Regions from separate parts of the Homo sapiens genome. Here region 1 is linked to region 2. The links come from fine-mapping of genetic effects on gene expression. A gene starts in region 2. The other region holds a variant in brackets. All regions are shown on one strand. Distances are from middle to middle.

What was found. PIP is the estimated chance that this variant, and not a neighbour inherited with it, causes the effect.
Region 1: its variant is fine-mapped to the expression of LINC01170 in nasal epithelium (TOPMed, PIP above 0.99).

The regions. Positions count from the first base shown.
Region 1 is chr5:124,306,014-124,308,935 of GRCh38, reverse strand. The region is part of intron 4 of LINC01170 (long intergenic non-protein coding RNA 1170); the gene reads left to right. LOC107986448 (a long non-coding RNA gene) reads left to right here. Exons shown (of 4, transcript XR_001742871.2): 4 at 2,645-2,685. Among named protein-coding and RNA genes, the nearest start is that of LINC01170, 130 kb to the left of the region's middle. RefSeq lists an enhancer at 1-479. The variant G/A (reference allele first, on the strand shown) is at 1,541.
Region 2 is chr5:124,437,123-124,440,044 of GRCh38, reverse strand. It overlaps LINC01170 (long intergenic non-protein coding RNA 1170), which reads left to right and starts at 1,525. Exons shown (of 6, transcript NR_125774.1): 1 at 1,525-1,650; 2 at 2,169-2,348.

The DNA of each region.
Region 1 (2,922 bases), 130 kb after region 2:
TTGGGGCGGCGTGGGAACCTAGAGTGGGAGAGATTAAGCTGAAGGAAGATTTTGTGGTAAGGGGTGATATTGTGGGGTTGTTAGAAGAAACATTTGTCATGTAGAGTTACTGGTTATGGCCTGGATACGGTTTTGTATGGATTGAAAAACTAAACGGAATAAGAGAAGGAGAAATACAGGTATTAAAGGACTAAGAATTGGGAGGACTTAGGACATCTAATTAGAGAGTGCTTAAAGAGGGTCAGCATAGCCTTGCCGGCAAAGATTATTTATTTACTTTAAGAGTTAAGAGTGGCAGTTTGGGGATAGCACCAGGAGATATCAGCTGTGATGGCTTGGAGAAACAGTGTAAACAAAAGCAGGGCATGTATGAGTAGTTGAGAACAGTGAATAGGAGTATGACTAGACAGAAAATAGTAGGGATGACAAGTTTTTTGAGGCACAGTCTAAGTTGGTCTGGTGTCTGGGATGAGACTGGGGCCTAATAAAAAGGAGCATCTATGCAGGACCTTAAATGGGCTGTACCCTGTAGCATTCTGAGGACAGGCCTGAGTTCTGAGAAGGGAAAGTGGTAAAAGTATTGTCCAGTCCTTTTTAAGTTGGTGGCTGAGCTTGGTGAGGTGTGTTTTTAAAAGACCTTTAGTCCATTCTACTTTTCCTGAAGACTGAGGACCATAAGGGATATAAAGGTTTCACTGAACACTAAGAGCCTGAAAAACTGCTTGGCTGATTTGACTAATAAAGGCTGGTCTGTTATCAGACTGTACAAAGGTGGGAAGGCTAAAGTGAGGAATTATGTCTGACAGAAGGGAAGAAATGCCTGCAGTGGCCTTCTCAGACCCTGTAGGAAAGGCCTCTACCTATCCACTGAAAGTGTCTACCTAGACTAAGAGGTATTTTAGTTATCTGACTCGGGGCATGTTGAGTAAAGCTAATTTGCCAGTCCTGGGTGGGGGCAAATCTTCGAGTTTGATGTGTAGGGAAGGGAGGGGGCCTGAAGAATCCCTGAGAAGTAGTAGAATAGCAGATGGAACACTGAGAAGTTATTTCTTTGAGGACAGATTACCACAATGAGAGGTTTTGAGAGGCAGGCTAGTGGCTTGTACTATAGCATATCCTGCCTTTGCTGGTGTGTGGCGATTAGGCCTTGTGGAACTGCCATCAATAAACTAAGTGTGATCAGGGTGAGGAACAGGAAAGAAGGAAATATGGGGAAATGGGGTGAACGTCAGGTGGATCAGAGAGATACAGTCATGGGGGTCAGATGTGGTATCCGGAATAATGTGGGAGGCCGGATTGAAGTCCGGGACAGGAACAATCTTAATTGTGGGAGACTTAACAAAGAGTGAGTACAGCTGAAGGAGCCGGGGAGCAGAAAGTATATGCATCAGGTGTGAGGAAGAAAATAGATTTTGGAAATTATGAGAGCTGTAGAGAGTGAGTTGAGCATAGTTTGTGATTTTGAGGGCCTCTAAAAGTATTAGGGCGGTGGCGGCCACTGCACGCAGACATGAGGGCTAGGCTAAAACAATAAGGTCAA[G/A]TTGTTTGGACAGATAGGCTACAGGGTGCAGTCCCAGCTCTTGTGTAAGAATTCTGACCGCACTAACCATGCCTAGGAAGGAAAGGAGTTGTTGTTTTGTAGAAGGGATTGGGGTTTGGGAGATTAGCCGGACACGATCAGCAGGGAGAGCACATGTGATTTTATGAGAATTATGTCGAGATAGGTAACAGATGAGGAAGAAATTTGGGCTTGATGGAAGTAATGGGGGCTGTCTGTGAAGCTTTGTGGCAGTACAGCCTAGGTAATTTGCTGAGCCTGATGGCTGTCAGGGTCAGTCCAAGTGAAAACGAAGAGAGGCTGGGATGAAGGGTGAAAAAGAATAGTAACGAAAGCATGTTTGAGATCCAGAACAGAATAATGGATTGTGGAGGGAGATATTGAGGATAGGAGAGTATATGGGTTTGGCACCATGGGGTGGATAGGCAAAACAATTTGGTTGATAAGGCACAGATCTTGAACTAACCTGTAAGCTTTGTCTGGTTTTAGGACAGGTGAAGTGGGGGAATTGTAAGGGGAGTTTATAGGCTTTAAAAGGCCATGCTGTAGCAGGTGAGTGATAATAGGCTTTCATCTTTTTAAAGCGTGCTGTGGGATGGGATATTGGCATTGAGGGGTGAGGGTGATTAGGTTTTAATGAGATTGTAAGGGGTGCATGATCGGTCGCCAAGGAGGGAGTAGAGGTATCTTATACTTGTGGGTTAAGTTGGGGGGATACGAGAGGAGGATGTGAAGGAGGCTTTGAACTGGGGAAAAGGGCAGCAATGAGGTGTGGCTATAGTCCAGGAACAGTCAGGGAAGCAGATAATTTAGTTAAAATGTCTTGGCCTAATAAGGGAACTGGGCAGGTGGGGATAACTAAAAAAGAGTGCATAAAAGAATGTTTTCTAAGTTGGCACCAGAGTTGGGGAGTTTTAAGAGGTTTAGAAGCCTGGACATCAATACCTACAACAATTATGGAGGCAAGGGAAACAGGCCCTTGAAAAGAAGGTAATGTGGAGTGGGTAGCCTCTGTATTGATTAAGAAGGGGGTGGACTTACTTTCCACTGTGAGAGTTACCTAGAGCATCTGTGATGGTCTTGTAGGCTTCCGAGGTGATCGGGCAGCATCAGTCTTCAGCTGCTAAGCCGAGAAGATCTGGGAAGGAGTCAGTCAGAGAGCCGTGGGCCAGAGTTCCAGGGGCTCTGGGAGTGGCTGCCAGGTAAGTTGAACAGTCTGATTTTCAGTGGGGTCCTGCACAGATGGGACACGGCTTAGGAGGAATCCCGGGCTGTGGGCATTCCTTGGCCTGGTGGCCAGATTCCGGCACTTGTAGCAAGCTCCTGGGGGTTCTGGAGGAACACTTGGCAGCTGCAGTTCAGGC
Region 2 (2,922 bases):
TACCGTATGGCCTGGCATGGTGGTGTGTGCCTGTAGTTCCAGTTACTTGGGAGCTCCCGAGGCCAGGAGTTTGAGGCCAGCCTGGGCAGCATAGTGAAATCACATCTCAAGAAATTTTTTAAAGTTGTAAAAAAAAGAAATAAGTACTATAACTAGCAGCTGCCATCCTATATGAGAGGGTTACTCTATGTGTACATCTCCAGATGAAGGGTGACTCAGAGTAACACCACATTTAGTGCGATGCCATACCCAGTTTCACACTCTCAGATGAGGCTTTGTTATTCTTGAAGACTGAGGTCCCGTAGGTAGCCTGGAAAACAGTTCACAAAAGGCTCTCTGAATAGTGAATGCACATGCTTAACAAATCTGTTTTTGCTAGTCTCCATTACCTTCCTTCAGCAGGTGTAAAGCTTTAGTTCTGATATTCCTCTCCATTGTAGATGCCTGGCTCTAAGCCTTCTTTGTTTCTACCCAGATGCCAGCTTCTAGTTAACTATTCTTTTTTTTTTTTTTTTAAGCTACCAACCATCTGGAGGAAATCTGATTGGGGCTAGGGTCATTTTTGTACCTTTTAAAATGCGGTGTAGGTAAAAGGATTTGTCAAACCCATGAATGACCCTTCTCAGATCTCAGAGGCACTTCAGATTGGCAAGGGACTCCTTCATGAAGAAGCTGACTCAAGCAGAGGTAGCAACAGAGGCAAAGAGGAGCATGCTGAAGCTACAAGATGGGTTGAGAAATATAGATCTGCCCAATTATAATTCAAACAAAAACAAGTGAGAAACTGTAGTCGGTTGAGGCACTCTTGGCCGAGCATCTGGGCTTGGCATGCATGCATGCATAATTAGGCTTCAGGCAGCTGCAGGCTTCCACAGTGCAACAGGGCAGGCAGGATATCATAATACACAGTAGGTTGCATATCAATGAAACTCTTTTTAAATTCACATGAAGCCTAAGATAAAAAGACATCAGCAAAAATTAAACAGCATTCAAAACGGCAGTGAATTGTGATACAGGCCACCAGGAAAACGATGAAACCCGACCTGGTTTCCCCCCATTGTTCTGTTTCCTTCACACAAATAGATTAGAGCAACAGTGCTGACTTTGTTTTAAAATACACACACTCATTAGATCAAAGTGATCAATGCACATTTAAGCAACTTTCAAGGCATCACAGGAAGAGTGAAATGGTCTGCTTTATTTTGAAAGACAACAGAGAAAATCACACACATGCATCGGGGCATTGTGATATGCAGATGGTTGGCTTTCAGAAGAATTAAATATTCATGGAAGATAAAAATCTCTCTCATTATATTTTTAATGTATATGAGGCTTTGGGCTCAATGCCCTCTGTGTTCACATAACAGACAGACCCTGTTCTCCAAACACATGGATCTGCACACAAGGACGGCTCAGATCACATCCCGAGATGTCACCCTGGCCCGGGCCGGTCAGGCCCTTCCACCGCAGGGCTGCCCCATGGCAGCCAGTGACACCGCTGAGACAACTTTGCCGTGGCCTTACTTTCATTTCCTTGGTTGTTCAGTTTATGGCAAAAGACCCTCAGCTGTGTTTTGTTTACTAATTCCCCTAAGCCTGCCTTAAATCCAGACTGCCAGGGCCACAGGAAATCTTTCAGACCCCTGACAGGTACGGGTAAGTCTCTGAGGTACCTGGGCGTTTGCATTTGCTTCTATTACTAACCCACGTGCAGCATTATAACCTTCCTGCTTTTTCTTGTTTATTCCATGTCTTTGTTTGACAGAGATTCAAAGGGGTTTCTCAGAGGCTTTTAATCTGATTAACTACACATGGGTGACCACTGTAAGGGTTGGGATGCTACAGGACAGGCAGCACTGTCGGGTAGGGTCAGATTTGTCATCCCTCCTGCCCTCGCTTTCCCCAACACACTCCCAGTTTTCCCCTCCCCCACCCCGTGTGCCAGCTCACTCAGAAAATAGGATTCCAGATATGCTTTTATTGAGGAAGAATAATTAAAAAAAAAGATGTGTTTCTTCTTCATAGGGTGCTGAAATAATGAATTTATTAACCTTAGATCAGTGAAATGAATGAAAACTAAACCTGCTTAAAGGAAAGCATTAAGGTGAGAAAAATAAATATTCCTCTACATTTCAATTTGATTCTGAATTTAGTTCATTTTACTCCAGTTAGAAAATTGGCTCCACCTATGGCATTCACTGGAGTAGTCATCATCTTCTACACCGTGTCATTTTCCGTGCTTCTTTGTACATACATTCTTTCCTATGCTTTAAGACTGTATCGTCTATAGAAGATGAGTAATTATGATGAAGACTGAATCGTCACAGCATTTTGTTGTTGGCGTTCAGGTAATTGTAGCTGCGCGTGAGGTAGTTATTTGACCAGGTCTAATGTGTTGAATTGGTCTCTTGCTTTTTTTTTTTTGGTCACTGCTGTTGCCCTCCAATAAATTCCATCTTATCTTCAACTTAGATTTAAATACATGTGTTTTCTAGGTGTTGTTTCTATGCTCATATTTTAAACACAAGCATAAATGTACTTACATTACTGGATTCCAAAATGTAAATAGGTAGGACACTCAGGAATCAGATCTAACTTCCTTTTATCCCCCTGTCTGTGAACTGTGCTTTCAGTAAAAAGTAATGTTTCCATGTTGGGAATTCCCATTATTTCTTTTAAATATCCTCTAAAGCCCTGGTTTAAATAGGAATCAAAGTTCTTATTCCAGTGAGTGGAACAATGCAGTAATATAGATGTAGGGATCAAAGACATCACTGAACCATCAGCCTCCTGCCTCCAGTGTAGCCAGCCATCCTCAGCCATCCCCAGAAGCTGCATCCTCAGGGGCAGCACCCGGGGCTGAACAGTGAGCTGGCCAGGCTGGAGGGAATCTCCTCAGGGGAAATGTGTGAATAGACCCTG